3 separate regions of the Homo sapiens genome follow, and all the other regions are linked to region 2. The links come from fine-mapping of genetic effects on gene expression. A gene starts in region 2. Each other region holds a variant in brackets. All regions are shown on one strand. Distances are between the middles of the regions. Region 1 holds the start of C7orf33 (chromosome 7 open reading frame 33). Region 2 holds the start of CUL1 (cullin 1). Region 3 holds the start of LOC124901818 (protein GVQW1-like).

Region 1 (6,296 bases), 110 kb before region 2:
CCCTGCCAAACCCCGCTACAAAATGTTTCTCATTATGACCTGAGACATTAATTCTGATTGTAGAGGTTTTAGATCATTTCTTCTAGGTGTTAATCAGTTCTGGCCATATGGTGAGGGTGAGGTAATCATTATTACTTTACAATGAATGCCCTTAATTACTTTTTCAGTAGTAATATTAGTCCTTCTGTTTATTTGAGTACCTAAGAGCTGCAGGCAACGTGATCTGAATTACATGGAGGACAAGCTCCAGCTGACTTTCCGTAAACTCGCATTAGGATTCTAATAGGAGACGACAGGAGCAGGTGGGGATAATGAGCTGGCGGAAGGGGCTGCCTATCACACTGCTCGGTGGCCCCTCTTTCACCCCCACTTTGCCTCAGGCATTTTCTACTCAGCTGTGACCTTACTTATGGTGATGCCAATCCAGTGGTCAGGAGCGAGGCGCCCAGCCTGTGTCTGAATCCTCCTACTGACCCTGGGGATCCGTGCGACTTGATCTTAGATATTGGTGGTGAAGCGCCGCTCTCCTTGACAGCATCCAGGAAAGGTAATTACCTTTGCCAAAATGCAAGTGGAAGTTCAAAGCCTCAGCCTTGAAGAGTGTCCCTGGAGACTTCCAGGCCCCCAATGTGAATGTGAAGCCCTCCTGCCCAGTGGGGCAAGGCGCCGGATTGACCTTCGCCTGAGTGGGAGGGCAGTCGCTGTTTGGGTCCACGTTAGGGGCGGTCCAGGTCAATTTAACTTGTCATATGCCACGGGAAGACATAAGGTAAGTTAATGATTCTAAGATGAATCAACTGCTCTTTGAGTCAGTCAGTATCTCTTGAGAATTCATTCACTCAATCCATGAATGTTTTTGACTCTCTACTATGTGTTATGGAACTGGGCTTAACGACATTGAAGTAAAGAGAGAGACAGAGATTAATTCACTGCCCCAAAGAAGGCCTGGAATCTTCTTAGGGAAAAGAATCCTCACAAAACACTCCACTGAGTATTCTTGTGTTTAGCCTGAGTCATGTTGATTTGAAAAATTCCAGCGTAAAAATTGTATATTTTCACACAGTGTGGTAGAAGGAATGCGCTTGTTCTCAGACTATGTTTTGCCCTGGAGATGGGTCCACAGGAAGCCTCTATCTTGGTCACCCTTTGGCACAAGCTTTGCACCTGTTCCCTTCTCCTTGCCTAGATTCTTGTCTCTTCTCTCGCTTTAAAGACCAGGAGTTGTTGTTGTTGTTTTAGAGATAGTATCTTGCTCTGTCACCCAGGCTGGAGTGCAGTGTCACAATCATAGCTCACTGCAGCATCAACCTCCTGGCTTCAAGTGATCCTCCCAGAGGAGCCTCCCGGGTGGCTAGGACTACAGCCATGTGCCATCAGGCTTAGCTAATTTTTTTATTTTTTGTAGAAATGGGGTCTTGCCATGTTGCCCAGGCTGGTCTTGAACTCCTGTCCTCAAACGATCCTCCCACTTCAACATCCCGAAGTGCCACCCATGCCCAGCAAGACCTGGATCCTTAACTCTTTGCCTGTCTTTGATCTTTGACACCTCCTGATCCCCAAGCCCCTGCCTCCCACTAGGCAGGCATTTTTGGTTAAAGTATGAGCTCCCACTTTGTATTTATCTCCAGCTTTGGGTGTTCAGTTTGATGGGAACCACAGGTGTCCCCACCTAGTTCTCCAGCCCTAATTTGTTTTCTCCCATGTTGCAGTTCCTGGCTTCTTCCCATTTGCCCACACCCTCATTGTGGCACAGTGCCCCAAACTGACACATGCCACAGGCTCAGAGTATCTTCTGATATGAAGAATGACTCTGGTCATTCGAGGGCAGAGAGGATTTCATGACCTTTCCCTGAGAACAGCAGCATGAACTGCAGGGTCAGCAAGGGGGTTGTGTCTGCCTGCTGCTAAGGTCAGATGCAGACAGCCCATGTCAGGGAAAGCCCATTTAGCATAAGAAGAGTAAAAAGAAGAAAATACCTCCTCAGCCAGGGGTACTTTGATGTGAACCAATACAATTAGTCTCTGAATGATGAATATAAATGATAATCAATGACGTATATGTGCTTAAAAGAAGGTGAGAAAAGATTATCACTGCCTAAACCTTCCTTTTAAAGGATGCCACAAGTGCATGGGTGGAGCATATAGGGTAGATAGGATTTTTTTTTTTTTTTTGAGATGGAGTCTAGCTCTGTCGCCCAGGCTGGAGTACAGTGGCGTGATCTTGGCTCACTACAACCTCTGCCTCCTGGGTTCAAGCGATTCTCCTGTCTCAGCCTCCCAAGTAGCTGGGATTACAGGTGCACGCCACCATGCCCAGCTAATTTTTGTATTTTTAGTAGAGACAGGGTTTCACCATGTTGGCCAGGCTGGTCTCAAACTCCTGATCTCAGGTGACCTGCCTGCCTCAACCTCCCAAAGTGCTGGGATTTCACGTGGAAGCCACTGTGCCCCAGCAGGGTAGATATGATTTAAATCTTTTTTTTATTATTGTTTTTTTGAGATGGAGTTTCACTCTTGTCACCCAGGCTGAAGTGCAATGGCACGATCTCAGCTCACTACAACGTCCACCTCCTGAGTTCTAATGATTCTCCTGCCTCACCCTCCCCAGTAGCTGGGATTACAGGCACCCACCACCACATCCTACTAATTTTTGTATTTTTAGTAGATACAGGGTTTCATCATGTTCACCAGGCTGGTCTTAAACTGCTGACCTCAAGTGATCCACCCACCTCACCTCCCAAAGTCCTGGGATTACAGGCATGAGCCAACATGCCTGGCCGACACGATTTAAATCTAATTAGATCACTGGAAGATACAGCAAAGTCTCAAAGTGGTTGTCTATGGATGGCACTATGAGTTACGTATTATTTTTCCAAAGCTCAGAATGTTCTGAATTTCTTTATTTTTGTTATTCATTTTGAGATGGAGTCTTGCTCTTGTTACCCAGGCTGGAGTGCAATGGCTCAATCTTGGCTCACTGCAACATCCGCCTCCTGGATTCAAGTAATTCTCCTGCCTTAGCCTCCCAAGTAGCGGGAATTACAGGCACCTGCCACCACTCCCAGCTAATTTTTTTGTATTTTTAGTAGAGTCGAGGTTTCACCATGTTGGCCAGGCTGGTCTCGAACTCCTGACCTCAAATCATCTGCTTGCCTCAGCCTCCCAAAGTGCTGGGATTACAGGTGTGAGCCACTGCAACTGGCCTGAATTTCTTTAAATAGAGAATCTCTATTGCCTTCATAATAACATGTTTTAAAGTTAGTTTTTATTTTAAATGTTAATTTGAAGTCAAAATGCTTTTCCTCTGACTGGGTGTTTAATGCATTTAGGAAAGGCTGAGCATGAAGCCAGGGTCGGGGGATACAGCCTGTTTGGAGGGGATTGTAGAAACGGAGACTCCCAACT[G/A]GGATTGACAGGAAAGGGTCAGAGCCCAGAGAGATGCCTGCTGGAAAAGAAGTGACATGGTTGAATATTTGCCCGGCTAAGTGTCATGCTGGAATGTGATCCCTAGTGTTGGAGGTGGGGCCTAATGAGAGGTGATTGGATCATGGGGGTGGATTTGTCATGAATAGTTTAGCGCCATCCTCTTGGTGCTGTCCTTGCGATAGTGAGTGAGTTCTCACAAGATCGGGTTGTTTAAGTGTGTGGCACCTTCTCTTGCTTTCTTGCTCTCACTTTTGCTGTTCGATGTGCCTGCTTCTACTTTGCCTTCCGTCATGAGTGAAAGCTCCTTGAGGCCTCCCCAGAAGCCGAGCAGACGCCATGTTTCCTGTACAGCCTGCAGAACCATGAGCCAATTAAACCTCTTTTCTTTTTTTTTTTTTTTTTTTCTGAGACAGAGTCTTCGCTCTGTCGCCCAGGCTGGAGTGCAGTGGTACGATCTTGGCTCACTGCAAGCTCCGCCTCCCGGGTTCGTGCCATTCTCCTGCCTCAGCCTCTCGAGTAGCTGGGACTACAGGCATCCGCCTCCATGCCAGGCTAATTTTTTGTATTTTTTAGTAGAGACGGGGTTTCACCATGTTAGCCAGGATGGTCTCGATCTCCTGACATTGTGATCTGCCCGCCTCGGCCTCCCAAAGTGCTGGGATTACAGGCGTGAACCACCGCGCCCGACCAACCTCTTTTCTTTATAAATTACCCAGCCTTAGGTATTTTACAGCAATGCAAAAACAGCCTAATACAAGAAGTAAGAGGAAAGATGATACCAACTTACCAGTAAGGGTACTAAGATGACACCCAAGTAAAATGCAGAACAGTTATCATTTCATTTGCTTGGCAGAAGGAGGGTGACAGTTTGTAGGGAGATATAATCCAACCAAATTGTTTAGGGAAATGTGAAACCAAATGGTTTAGGGAAAATATGATGAAATTCAATATATTTGAATTTGGGAATATATTCAATATATTTCAGTCCAATATATCCTTACAGAGTGAGGTTTGGCATGGTACCACTGTGGATCATTTGTCTTCTATTCAAAAGAAGGACAATGTCTATGTTAATGTTATGGTTCAGGAACCTAACAGCAAGTACAGCCTGCAGCCTGCACTCCCAGCCGCTCCTGCTTACATGAGACAACAGTGAGCCACAAGACAGTGTCCCCATCTGAACATGCTTGGCCCTGGGAATCATTAGGGACTCTTAAGAAGCAGAAAGTCCTGACCACCTAACAATGAGCACCAGCTTTTCACTTAATAGTTTCTGAATATTCACCAGGTCAGGTTTTCTTTTGTTTGTTTTGTATTTTTTGAGACAGGCTGGAGTGCAGTGGCACATTCACGGCTCACTGCAGCCTTGACCTCCTGGGTTCAAGTGATCGATCCTCCTGCTTCAGCCTCCTGAGTATATTATATAATATCTATATTATATGGATATATATTATATAGATATATATCATGTATAATATAGAGATATCTATATTATATAGATATATATTATATAGATATATAATATATAATATAGATATATCTATATAATATAGATCTATATTATATAGATATATCAAATATAATATAGATCTCTATTATATAGATATATCATAGATAATATAGATCTATATTATATAGATATATCTATATAATATAGATATATATTATATAGCTATATATATGCTATTATATATTATATATACTATAGATCTATATTATATATTATATAGCTATAGTATATATAATATAGATCTGTATTATATATAACATATAGCTATATAATATATATAATATAGATCTATATTATATAGATATACATATTATATATATTATATATAATATACATCTATATTATATAGATATAATATAGATCTATATTATATAGATATAATATAGATCTATATTATATAGATATACATATTATATATATTATATATAATATACATCTATGTTATATAGATATAATATATATATATATCTATATCTCAAGCAGGCCACTGTGCCTGGCCTGCTTGCTTCTTTTAACCTATGCTATTCCTATTTTTACCTTGACCTTAAAGCTGATTGGACTTCATTTTATGAGAGGATGCTGTGGCTTACCCAGGTCATAACCATTAAATTTATCACATTAACCAATGTTTAACCATGATCACAGATTACTGAGAATACTGGCAAGAAAATGAGTAACTACAAAATTGCAACAGGTTGTGTGCAATTAAATTTTTTTTTCAAATATATTTTAGGTTAACATTAAACATTCCAGTTATAATCTCTATTCTGCAGTTGATGCAGAGTTCGTGTTTTAAAAAAAGAACTGCCTTCACAGAAATGTGGACTTATATACTTTTATATAATAAACTTTATATTTTTAGAGCCATTTTAGGTTCACAGTAAAACTGAGCAGAAAATAGAGATTTCTGGTACCTCTTGCCCTCACACATGCACAACCTCCCTCCCTATCAACTTCCCCCACCAGAATGGTGGATTTTTTACAACTGATGAACCAACATTGATGTATTATCACCTGAAGTTTATAGTTTAGATTACAGTGGGTTTGGACAAATACATAAGGTCATGCATCTTCTGTTACAGTCTCATTCACTGCTGTATTAGTCTGTTCTCACGCTGCTGATACCTGAGACTGGGCAATTTACAAAAGAAATAAGTTTAATTGGACTTACAGTTCCACATGGCTGGGGAAGCCTCATAATCATGGTGGAAGGCAAGGAGGAGCAAATCACGTCTTACATGGATGGCAGCAGGCAAAGAAAGAATGAGAAAGACGCAAAAGCAGAAACCCCTGATAAAACCCTCAGATCCCATGAGACTTACTCACTACCATCAGAACAACATGGGGGAAACTGCCCCCA
Region 2 (6,296 bases):
TGCGCTGGATGGCTAGTTACTTACCTGTGTCTTAGAAATAACAGTTCATATGGTTAATCAAGTAACACCTGTACCCTTTCATTTCAGTAGTAAGCAAATTTGCTTGGAATCTGCTTCAGTGTTCTTTGGGCACAGTGCTGAGGGGGCAGGTGAACCTTAGGAAATTGTCTCTCACCCCACAGCACAGACCACCTAGTTTAAAGGCACATGTGAACAGGCAATCAGGGAGAGATCACAAAGCTTGGGTAGAAGGTGTAAGGTGGGCTTCCTGGGAGGGGGTGTGAGCTGGATCTTGAAAAGTGAGCATGATTTGGAGATGGAGGAAAGAAGTGGGAAATGGTATCTGTTAAGGGAACAACTGAAGGAGGCCCTCATAAATGGCGACTCACAGCTCATCTGTGGGCCAGTGAGTACAACCAACAGGACCGGATGGCATTGAGAGTTCCTTCTGGGAAGTGGCAGGAAATAAATTTGGAAATGCAAGTTTGGACAAGATCTGGTAAACCTTAAGTGCCAGGTCCAAATTTGGATTGAACACTATAAACAATATGGAACCACTGAAGCTTGAAAGGACAAAATTATAATGATGAAGGTATCAGTTTAGAAGGAATAATCTGCCATCAGTCAGGACACAAGTGGAAGGATAAAGAGATAAGAACCAGGAAAAGCATTTAGAAGGCTAAAGGACCAACATAAGTGTGGGAGAATATCTTAGTAAAGGAGTGGATATACACAGAATCATGAGTCACTGGGTCAGGTTATGCCACTGATCAGGCTGAGTGATTTGGAGCAAATTGCCTAACATCTCTGAGCCTTAGGTTTTTTCATTGAAAAAATGGGTATGATGATGATAATGACTGACCCAAAAGAGGCAAACGATTTCTCTACGATGGTGACAGCTCTGGGATACAAGGTGAACGGGCCAGGATTTTGAGTCTGTTTCCAGGTCTGTATGAATTAAAGAATGTGTTATGAATGGCAACAGAGACAACCACTTTGTGGACGATGAGGAAGGGAGGGGAACTAATGGTTGGTGAATGTTCCACGAATTACGTGGGAATTATAAATAAATTACTCTTCACACTCTTATGAAGTAGGTATTTTTATCTCAAATTAACAGTTGACCTTACTAGAGCAAAAGATAGTAATTTGAGTTACTGGATATGACTCAAATTTGGGTAACTAGATACAAACCAAGGTCTAAAATCTAAAACTTGGGCTTTTCCAGCTAGTACATCATATTTAGATTTGAAAGTTATATTTTATTTCATTGCTTTTGGCCTAATGTTGTAGCCTGTTGAGACTGTTTTGAACTTTGATTCTGACATCTATCAAATTAATTATCCCTCCAAACTTTGGGTCATCCGAGAGAGACATCAATTTTGCTGAGTTGGGGGGTAAAGATGGAGGAAGGATGTTTTAAAGTAGAAAGAGAGCAGCAGGTGGCCTTGACTTGTGAGGTAGGCGGCAAGGTTATCTGCGCAAAGTAAATGCAATCTGGATGTTAAGTGGACGTAAAAGTCGATGGAATAAATTTGCTGCTAAGAATGATCGTGTAGGCAGGTGGAGAGTAAAGAATAGAAAGGAGTTAAGAACCAGGAATGGAGGCAGTGAGAAGAGAGAGGGTGGTGTGGGTGGACCAAATACTGCTATTAAGGAAAAAGAGAGGGTGGAGGAAACAAACAATACAGGGAAGGTTGACCCACTCAGCCCTTCTATTCAGCTGGAGGAAGTCACAGAAAAGGAGGCTATATTGAATGGTAAGATTGGAGAAGACTGGTTAGGGAATAGGAAGATAAGCTGTTGTCTAAAAAACGCAGTCTCCAGTAAAAGGAAGAAATTGGGACATTTTTTTAAAACCCCACATAGGTACACTGGAAAACATGGGCCACAGGGATAAACCTTCCATTTTTACTTCCAACCTTACCATGTGCTCACAAAAAAAGGTGTTAAATACATGTAAGTTTTGACGAGGTTATTTAAAAGTGTAGGATATAAACCAAGAATTTTTCACACCCCAAAACCCCGCACAAATTAAGGGATTACATATCTGAGTGACAAGTACATACAAACGCATTACTTCTAGAGATACTTAGATGTAGATAAAAGACCACATTTCAATAGAAGGATCACACAGACCAGTGGGATGTTTCTTCTGAGATAACCCACTTTATGCAGGAAACAGTGTGGACTCTGGGGACGGCCTCTGCTCTGGCTGAGGATTTCTGTCCCAGAGCGGTACAGGAATCTGCGTAGTGTTTTAGTTTGGAGAAAACAGGAAGTTACACTCATCACATCTTTTGCCCAGATGATAGAATTCGAAATCCCCCCGGGGTTGTTCATGGAATGAGCCGCTCTGTTATGTTGTGAGCCGTGGTATTAATCAGCCACCCCTCACTAGGTGTTGGGGTTCCACCACGCTTCCTCCACCCCCCGTCACCACAGCAGCGGGTAGTATTTAGGTTGAATATTCCAAATAGTCAATTATGACAGTTAATTTCAAATGAGATGACTTCGAAGTACACGTGAAAACAATACTATTTTATATCACGACTCATGCCATCCGTATGTGTAATCAAAGCCTTCTAAGTCTTGATATGTCCTTACAAAGACGAAGGATAGAGTGAATGTCAAAATTTGCCAAACAGGAGTTACTGAAAGTCTGAAGGGGAAAGCCTAGTTAGGTTTTATCTTAGAAGTGATTTTTAAAACGAAACACGCAGATAAGCTCGAGCTTTCTGGAGCCGATTCCTAAGGCCTTGCAGGTGGTAAGGGGGTCGAGAATTGGCTGAGGTTCCTCGGAAGTCCGCGCCGATTCGGAGGGCCACCTCTGACTTTCTGATCTGGGGTGCAACCCCCAGTCCCTGTCCCGGTCGACAAAGGTGTGGAGTCAGGTTCCAGGCAAGCTGGGGGTGGGGGTGCGCACAAGGGAGGGGCAGGGGACTGGGACCCCCTCTTCTTCGGGGTGCTTCGGGCCGTTTCTCCAGAGGCTGGTGGTGTCCCCGACCCAAGCAGCTCAGCCCCGCTCGCGAGGTCCGAAGTGGCGGGAACGGGTCCTCCGCGGCGGTCCCAAGGCGAGGGAGGCTGTAAAACCTGGCAGAGAATCCGGCGCGCCGGGTCGGGGATGTCTCGGGTGCCGGGGGCAGGGGCCGCAGGCTCGCAGGTAGAAGCTTCCCCACGCGAGCGGGGGCCTCGGCCGCGGAAGGGGCGCCCCCGGGGCCGCCGGCAGCGGCGAGCGGGCGGGAGGGAGCTTTCCGGGCCCCTCCCGCGCCTCGGGCTGGCGGGGCGATGGCGACGACGGTTTCCCGGCTCCCCCGCCCCGGACGCCGATGGCGGTGCGTTCCGGCCCTCCCCCAACAGCTTCTCCCCCGCGGTCGCCGGAGCCGGTGAGGCCGAGAGGGCGGGGAGCCGCGCAGGGAAGGCGAGAGGGCGGAGGTTGCGTGGTGCAGGCGGCGGCGGCGGGAGGAGGAGGGCCGGGCGGGCAGGGGAGGAGGAGGAGGCGGGCGCCGTGTCGCACGCAGCTCCAGGCGGGGCAGCCCCGGTAGCTGAGGGACGCAGCTAGACCTTGGCGGGACGGGGCTTTCGCCGGGGCCCAGGCCCAGGGACCAGGCGGAGGCGTCGCGGGAGCCTTTGGGGCACCACAGAGATGCGGGTGAGTGTCGGCAGCCGCCGGGGCCGAGAGGAGGTGGCGGCGGCGGCGGCGGCGCAGGCCCGGCCCCGAGCCGCGGTGTCGCAGTGACTCGGGCCGCGACGGCCGAAACCAGGCGCCTGGCGAGGCCTGAGCCGCCGAAACGCGGCCGGGCAGAATGGCGGCCGGGCCGGGGGACTCGTGGGCGGAGGACGCCGAAGGTGGCAGAGGAGCGAGCGGGGCCGGGCCCTGAGTCACCCCGGACGGGCCGGGGCGGCCAGGCCTGGACTACGCACTGGGAAAAAGCACGATTCATCGCGCCTGGAGGCGGCGGCCTGGTGGCGCCGGCCCCTTTCCCCGCCGCGACCGGGCTGGGTTCTCGGAGGGTGGGCCGACGTGTGGCCCGGGGCGGCTCGGGCGTCCGCGCCTCGCCTGGTGAGGCGACCTCCGCGGGACGCCGGGACCCGTGCCCTTGCCCCCTCGCGCCCACGCTTCTTCCCGGCGCTGCTTTCCGGCCGACGCGTGTTCCCCTGTGAGCTCTGGGCTCAAGCGCAGGAGCAGCCGCGGAGCCGGGCTCTCTCGCTTTCCGGTTCCCTGCCCGCGGCTCTCGGGTTCCCCGCCTGCATTGTTGCGAACGTGCAGGGCGCTATTATTGGGTAACAGTCGCCCTTTTGCCCCGTTCTCCTGGGAGAGCGGGCCGGGGCATGCGCGCAGGGATGCTAGCCCGGCGGCCGAACCGGACAGAGCCCCCCGGCGCCCGCCTATCGCTCGCTAGTCGGGCCGGGCCCTGCGCTGCGGCCTCGGCGCGCCCCCGGTCCCAACGGGAGCGCGCGCCCTGACCCTGAGGGTAGCCGTGCGCCCGCCAGGCCGCTGGGACTTGGGGTCCCCAGACTCGGGGGTCGTCGCTTTTTTTTCCCTTAAGATCTGAAAGACCCCCGTTTCTGCCACCCGTGCAGTATTGTGTAGCGCAGACATAAGATAAGAAAGAGAGGAATGCTTGTAGACATTCCTTGAAATGAATCCCCAAAGTTAGGGTTTTCTCCCTGGCTGGCTTTGCCAAAAAGAGGATTCTCTTTTCCGATTGGGTCACTCTTGGTTGCTTCTGGTTCGTAGTAGGGGTTAGTGGTAAGTGCGCAAATACTGAATTGCAGTCTACTTAAATATTTGTTTGCTCTGTGTAATTGCTCTTTCCTGTAGTAGCATTAAAATCGTCAAAAGTTCTGAGTGGAGTAAACGATCACACTTTTTGGAATGCACTTAACGAAGCGGCAGAAGAGGAACTAGATTCCTTTTTTACTTCAAGCCATGAGCTTCTAGGACCTAAGCATAGCTTAACGCCTCGCAGAAGTGTGTGCAGTTTTAAGTTTAACACTTCATTTCATGGTGCACCCGAAAATGTACCCGATTTTCTGAAATCCTGGAGAGTGTATTACGTAGTAAAATATGTAATGATGTTTAAAATGTAAAACCAGTCATTCTGTTTGAAAAAGATATTTGGAGATGAGATTTTTCTTTGTTTAAAGAAGGTTTGTTTTTGGATATTGAAAAATGTTTTACTTGAAGGTTCTATTTGTTGTTTTCCATGGTGAGTCGAAATAGTTGCGTTACATTTCAAATTCCAAAGCATGCAAACACAAGACTGGCTCGCTTTAACTCTATTAATGCCCATTTTTGGAGGTTTCAGGAGAGTGTTCCTTAAGCTTGAGAGGGATGGCTGAATTGCTTTCTAAATATGTTAAACTTTTTTTCTCATTGGCTTCATCTTTTAAAAACGATTTTGTCAAAAAACAAACCAAATTTAGATATGCTAGGGTTTTTCACCAATTTATAAAAGCCTCCCTCCCTGAGAGCCACATGCTCAGGTCCTTATAGCCAGCCCCACCCCCCACTCCTAATGTGTGTACCACATCAGAAGACAGACACGCATGCCTGAGCTGATTCTGCATGGTTTCCTTAGATATTACAGTTCATTAGACTCTTGCCACTTACTGAATATTATCTTCTAGCTGTAATTAACTACATGACAGCCTTATTTCCCATACATTTCCGATTGTGAATTCCTCCAGCGCAGGAGATATTCCTTATTTGTTTTTGCGTCCCCAGAGTAACAGAACTTGGTTGTGGTGGTGCCTCAGTTGCTTTTTTTTAATGAATGAGTTTTCTGGAATAATTCTAACTTAAACTTAACGTTTGAAAACATGCGCTGATTTTTGGCTACAGAAAACACAGTCGTTGTGCTTAAGCCGGTTAAGAATTCAAGCTTTATTATACACTTCTCGAGTAAAATTGATCGTCTCTCTCATCCCTCCTTTTCTATTCCCCCTTCCCTCTTCACTTCCCTTCTCCCTGAAACACCCCAGTATCTAGTACAGGGCCCTAACAGAAAAATGCCCAGGTTTTCTATACCTATGGAAGTCTGGGAAAGTGCCAAGAAAACAGGTTGTGAAACTTTAACTTTTTTCCCCCTTAAAACTAGTTTTAAGGTGTGGATGTTTTTACTTTTTGTGTTTGGTGTTTTTTTGGAAACACGATCAGGTTTTTCCCCCCAGGTTGAGTATCCAGCCTTGCCTTTGCAATGAAGCAGTTTGGTAGTTAAGGCTCCTCCTTGTAGATGAGGCAAGCCCCATGGTTCTGCTGGAGTGGGATAGGAAGTTGCTGTAGGAGGAAC
Region 3 (6,296 bases), 90 kb before region 2:
GTTTCCTCCTGTCTGCTCACTGCTCCTGTGAGTATCATCCTAGCAATGCTTCTTCACCCCGGCAGCAGCACTTCCTTTCTGCAGAAGCTTTTGAATGTGGTTTGCAGTTTGCAGTTTTTCTAGCACTTGCAGACCTGACCTCATACGGCCCATCTCATATTCACCAGAACCAGTGCAGAGCCCCCACCTTGAAGGTCTGAGTTTTAGCTCCAGGTGCCCCACCTCTAAGTTCCTACTTGTTCCCTTTCTTATTGTTTCTTTAACCCTGGGAGTGGACGCTGCAGTTGCTACCTCTATGAGACCTTAGAGTTCTCTTTTTATCCTGTTACAACTTTATAATGAACACATTTTTACCTAGTTAACACTTTTTATATTAAATTCTTACTGTTCAGCTAACTTGTGTGTATACTATCTCTTGGCCAGACCCTGACTACACTGGTGAACTTAAATAGAAAACTAACTTCTTGAAATGATCCTGGGTGGTTTATAGGATAAACAGAATGGCCTGAGAACGAGGCTTAAACAGATGGAAGCCCAGCCATGTTCATCCTGCAGGAATCATCTGGGCAAGACAAGCTCCTAATGCCTTTCACATTGCTGCACCCACCATCACCACCACAAATCCCAACATGCAGAAGATTATGAACAGACAGATAAGGCTCGCTCTGCAGATAGGTAGGGACAGGACAGTAAAGAAATTCGGAGGCAAGTTTTTAGACAGTTACACTTTTCTTAGATTCATCTCTCCAAAAAATATTTATCAAGTACCTTCTATGTGCTAGGCATCAGAAGGGAACAAAAATAAATGACATGGATCTTGTCTTAAAATCTAGACCACTGTTTCTCAACATTAGAATTTATCAAAATCTGGGATACTGTCAAAAATACCTCACCTCTGGAGATGCTGGGTCATTGCAGCGGGTGTGGAACCTACAACATATACTTTTTAACAAGCATCCCAGGTGATGCTGAAGTTGGTAGCCCACAGACCACTTTGAGAAACATTGATATTACAAACAAAAAAAAATATGCAGCAGACACAAAATCATGTGTAGGGGAAGAAAAATCATTGTTTCCTCAATCCTCATAGGTCTTTTAAAAACAAACAAACAAAAACGGAGTCTTGCTCTGTTGCCCAGGCTGGAGTATAGTGGCGTGATCTCAGCTCACTGCATCACTGCAACCTCCACCTCCCAGGTTCAAGTGATTCTCCTGCCTCAGCCTCCCAGGAAGCTGGGATTACAGGCACCCACCACCATGCCCAGCTAATTTTTGTATTTTTAGTAGAGACGGGATTTCGTCACGTTGGCCAGGCTGGTCTCGAACTCTTGACCTCAGGTGATCCACCCACGTTGGCCTCCCAAAGTGCTGGGATGACAGGCGTGAGCCACCGCGTCTGGCCACCTCATAAGGTTCTTAGTTGGAATAGACCCCATTTAAAAAAAAAATACACACACACACACACACACACACACACACGAGAAAAACAAGTTTATTTACATGTATATTTCACATCTACATGGCAGACACCCAGGAAAGGAGTAGTTCTCATGGCAGACACCCAGGGAAGGAGTAGTTCTCAAAGAAATAGCTTTGAATTCCAGCTTGTATAGCATCTTCAACAAAGAATAGTGATTTTTAGAGAAGTGACAGGACAAAGGAAAAGGACTTTGGGTCTCTAGAGGGGACTTCTCTGCGGGGAAGCAAGTAACCGGCAGATAAAAGCGAGTTGGTAAAGCATGTTCAGGTAGATTCCTCTGGCTCCTACTCCTGGCAGATAATGGTCTAAAACTGTCTTCAGTGGTTAACCTTTGTTCTCCCTGGTAAAAGACAGGGGCAGGATGTCTTTTATCTTGTAAATCTCTGTCCTGCATTTAAGCAAATGGAGGGCAGAGAGCTTTCCTGCATCTGTTTCTTCTTAATTGTCTTCAGCTCGACAATCCTCCTTTTGGAGTGGCATGTTCTGGACTCCCACACATGTCTGGAAGCAATGGTCAATTTCCCTAGAATGTAGATTTATTGATTAAAAAGAGACAAGGAAGAATTTCTTAGGAGGTCAGTTTTATGCCACTACAGGACTTCAGAAAAAGAACAGATCCTTCCTGCTTGATTTTAGGCAATAAATGCTTCCTATCTGACTGATCAGAAGACCACAGCCTTTAGAAAATATGACTCAAAAAATATTTTTCTTTGAGTTTTTTGACCAACCTTAAAAAAAAGTCCTGCAGGATATTTTCACTTAGGAATCACCAACAAACGTATTTTTTGTCTGTTACCACAAGAAAGCGTATCGGGTTTAAATATGTTTCTTTAATCGTACCCAGGCGAGCCTGACACTTATACTCTTTTGTATTCCTATATTCTTTCTTCCTCTTAATACATTTTTCTTCCTTCTTTCCTGGCTCCAAACCCCTAGTTTTCTCCCTTTCCTAATTGATGATTTTTTTCAATTCTTCAGCCACAGGTGCCCGATAAAATGGCCTTCAATCTCTGCCTTTACTTCCAGCGTATTACCTCACTCCCTCTCAAACGCCAATTAAAGGCTTTGTCCATTCCTGCTTAAAAAAATAGATGAAGGAAAATGAGATCTTTCTACCCAGAAAGACAAGTGCTTGGAAATTGCTAATTAGGTAACCAGAAATTCTGTCAATAATGAGCCCCAGGCTGGGTGCTGTGGCTTACGCCTGTATTCCCAGCACTTTTGGGAGGCTGACGCAGGCGGATCACGAGGTCAAGATGTCAAGACCATCCTGGCCAACATGGTGAAACCCCGTCTCCACTAAAAATACAAAAATATTAGCTGGGCATGGTGGTGCGCGCCTGTAGTCCCAGCTACTTGGGAAGCTGAGGCAGGAGAATCGCTTGAACCCAGGAGGCGGAGGTTGCAGTGAGCCGAGATCAGGCCACTGCACTCCAGCCTGGGCGACAGAGTGAGACTGCATCTCGAAATAATAATAATAATAATAAGTCCCCTCCCCTTGCCTGCCAAAGTGACTCCAATAATCACTCGACATGGACTTAAGAGCTGGTTTGACTTCCCATCTAAATTGCCGTGGCTCAGTGGCTCATGCCTGTAATCCCAGCACTTTGGGAGGCCAAGGCAGGCAGACACCTGAGGTCAGGAGATCGAGACCATCCTGGCCAACATGGAGAAACCCCGTCTCTACTAAAAATGCAATAATAAGCCAGGCGTGGTGGCGCATGCCTGTAGTCCCAGCTACTCGGGGAGGCTGAGGGCAGGAGAATCGCTTGAACCTGGGAGGCGGAGGTTGCAGTGAGCCACGGTCACACCTCTGCACTCCAGTCTGGGCGACAGAGCAAGACTCTGTCTCAGGAAATAAATAAATTGCAAGGAAAGGCAAAACAAATCTCACTGTGAATGTGGCTTGTCCATTTGCTGTAAAAACAG[T/C]CCTATTGCCTCCCTAGTGTGAAGCATCAGGTCCTGCTAAGAATGCTGGGTGGAAAGGCCTCTTTTGGAAACATGGCTTTGCTTTGGCAAATATTGTTGCTGATCTACCTGGGATAAGAGCTTAAGGTTCATTCTTACCTTGAGGAAGCAAAGGGGTTTTCATGTGTGTGAAATAGAAAATACCTTTCACGTTGCAAAGACGTTATTTTGAAAAAAAAAAAAAAAAAAATCAGGCCCAATGTAATGGAGAAGAGGTAGCACATCAACAAGATTCTGGAATAAATACAGTACTAACTCCCATCCCCCTGAGTACTAGCTACTAGTAAAATGAGATATCATGTTTCAGGCTTGACAGGGTCTCTGTTACAAACCATTCTTACATTCCTGGGCACAGAGCTAGTCTAAACATTCATAGAGCTCTTCAATTATATTTTGGCTCTTATATCAGCAGAGTTGAAGAGGAAAACAATGGCAGGGCATATGGGCCTCCTTTCACATACAGAGTAACAGAAACCCCAACTCAAAGGTCTTTTCAAAAAGGAAATATACTTATTCATAAAAAGAGAATTTCAGAGATAAAGCAGACTTTAGGTTACCCTCAGTGATGTTAGCAACAGCTCAGATTTTCAAATCCCAGCCCACAATCTATACTGACATCTTCATCTTGAAGTTGGCTGTCCTCCTAGGTGTAAAGTGGCTGCCAATAACAACTGGACTTTCTCTCTAAGGAGGGAGGAAGGACTTCCTTGGAAATCACAAGCAAATCTCTCCCCGAGGCTCTGCAGCCACAACTTGGTCACATTTCCATTTCTAAACCAATTCTTGACAAAAGGGAACATATTATCCTTAAATTATTTCAGCCCAGGATAAGCTTTCCCTCTGATACTTGGCCGCTTAGTGGAGGGTGGAGGGTTGGAAAAAGTCAGGCCTCTGTTACAGGAAGAAGGAGAAATGCTGAGTGGGCTACCAACAGTGTCCCCCACCTGGAGGGGGAGTCTTCGCTGAGTAGGAGCTTGAAATGGCTAAGTTAAAAACGGAAGTACATCTGAGGACCCTTCCAACTAGCAGATTCCAAGAAGACTCAATAATGCCTGATCCCAAATCCATTCTGAGCTGAGGCACTGTGTAACATCAGCAAACTGTGCAGGTTCTGCAAGAGGCACAAAGATAAATAAAAATGGTTCCATCTGGACTTTATTGCACAGTGAGAGTCATATGAGGTATCTGTAAACAACAAGAAAAGGTAGAATCACTTTGTGGGAAGTTTGATCCACAAGTAAGACTTCTGTGATGGTTAATTCTGTCGACTTGATTGGATTGAAGGATGCAAAGTATTGATCCTGGGTGTGTCTGTCAGGGTGTTGCCAAAGGAGATTAACTTTTGAGTCAGTGGGCTGGGAAAGGCAGACCACCCTTAATATGGGTGGGCACCATCTAATCAGCTGCCAGCACAGCTAGAATATAGAGCAGGCAGAAAAATGTGAAAAGACTAGACTGGCCTAGCTTCCCAGCCTACCTCTTTCTCCCGTGCTCGATGCTTCCTGCCCTTGAACATCAGACTCCGAGTTCTTCAGTTTTGGGACTCGGACTGGCTGTCCTTTCTCCTCAGCTTCCAGACAGCCTATTGTGGAGCCTTGTGAGCATGTGAGTTATTACTTAATAAACTCCCCTTCATATAATATTTTATGTGTGTATATATATCCTATTAGTTCTGTCGCTCTGGGGAACCCTAATACAACTTCCGAGGAGGGAGATCACTTCTGAGCAAATTATGAGGAATGGCAGCAAGAAGAAGGTGGCTTCTGAGCTGAGCCTTGTGAGAGATCAAATTTTACATAGTATGGGGGACAAGCATTCCTGGGTAAAGGGACAGCAATGGGGCAGGGCTAGTTAAAAAACAAGATGAGAGCATTATCTTCAGTGTAAATTGCTCCCCCACCAAAAGGACAAAGTGTCTGACTCACCACCTAGTGACTTCACTGGATGTTCTCCTTCTGCTCCACAATCCACCCCTCATTCTTCTCCACCTTCTTGTTCTGTGGCCCCAGAGGCTGGCCTTATGGACTGTATCAACTAGGCCACCTTGTTCCTGGTGTGAATTGGGTTCGACTAAGATGGTATGGGCAGGAGATGACAGAGTGAGAGGAAAGAGAGTTGGAGGTATGATTCCTCCAGCGTGCTCCTTGCCAGACTGTAGGTGGGCAGTAGCCATATTCCTCTAGCAAAAGCTATGGCTTTCCCCAAACAGCCCTTCCCCATAACTAGTGACATGGGAGTTGGGCAGGGAAGTGCTGGGTAGAGAAGGGCCAGGTCCCTGGTGAGGGCTCCACCCTCAAGCCTGTGCCACAGATCTAAGTGGGAACAGGCACTCCTGTTTTCATGACTGAATGTTGCATTTTCCAAGACCACCCTGGCCAACCAAGCCCCCCATCCTGTACCCATATAAACCCAAGACCTTAGTGGGTACACACACAAGCAGCTGAATGTCGAGACCAGCAGACCAGTGACAGCAGAACGATGCAGCAGAGAAGAAAAAGAGGGACGTCTTGATGCCGAGGGAAGGTCGGCCAGGGGTGGTTGGAGAAGGGTCCGGCTGCTGGGCAGCCCAACTCCAGGGAAAGATTATTTCCCCCACCCCTTCAACTTCCGGCTCCCCATCCATGTTGCTGAGTGCCGCCTCCATCACTCAATAAAAACTTGCACTTATCCTTCGAGCCCATGTGTGATCCGATTCTTCTGGGACACTGGGCCAGAGCTCAGGGAACAGAGGCTGTCACACTGGCCCTCTGCCCTTGCAATAAGGCAGAGGGTCCATTGAGCTGATTAGCACACAAGCCATCTGCAGATGGCAAATCTGAAAGAGCTTGGGTTACACGTGCCCACCTGG

What was found. PIP is the estimated chance that this variant, and not a neighbour inherited with it, causes the effect. A credible set is the group of variants that fine-mapping cannot tell apart.
Region 1: its variant is the best candidate, but not a certain one, in a credible set for the expression of CUL1 in whole blood (INTERVAL, PIP 0.54).
Region 3: its variant is the best candidate, but not a certain one, in a credible set for the expression of CUL1 in whole blood (INTERVAL, PIP 0.87).

The regions. Positions count from the first base shown.
Region 1 is chr7:148,590,361-148,596,656 of GRCh38, forward strand. C7orf33 (chromosome 7 open reading frame 33) reads left to right here and starts at 406. Exons shown (of 3, transcript NM_145304.4): 1 at 406-769. The coding sequence starts at 566. RefSeq lists a silencer at 3,563-3,763. The variant G/A (reference allele first, on the strand shown) is at 3,406.
Region 2 is chr7:148,695,378-148,701,673 of GRCh38, forward strand. It overlaps CUL1 (cullin 1), which reads left to right and starts at 3,526. Exons shown (of 22, transcript NM_003592.3): 1 at 3,526-3,652. RefSeq lists silencers at 2,381-2,440, 3,101-4,130, 4,431-4,530 and enhancers at 2,711-2,760, 3,828-4,553.
Region 3 is chr7:148,605,485-148,611,780 of GRCh38, forward strand. The region is part of intron 1 of C7orf33 (chromosome 7 open reading frame 33); the gene reads left to right. LOC124901818 (protein GVQW1-like) reads right to left here and starts at 2,924. Exons shown (of 3, transcript XM_047421175.1): 1 at 2,797-2,924. The coding sequence starts at 2,924. RefSeq lists enhancers at 1,755-2,474, 5,706-6,206, 6,207-6,296. The variant T/C (reference allele first, on the strand shown) is at 3,410.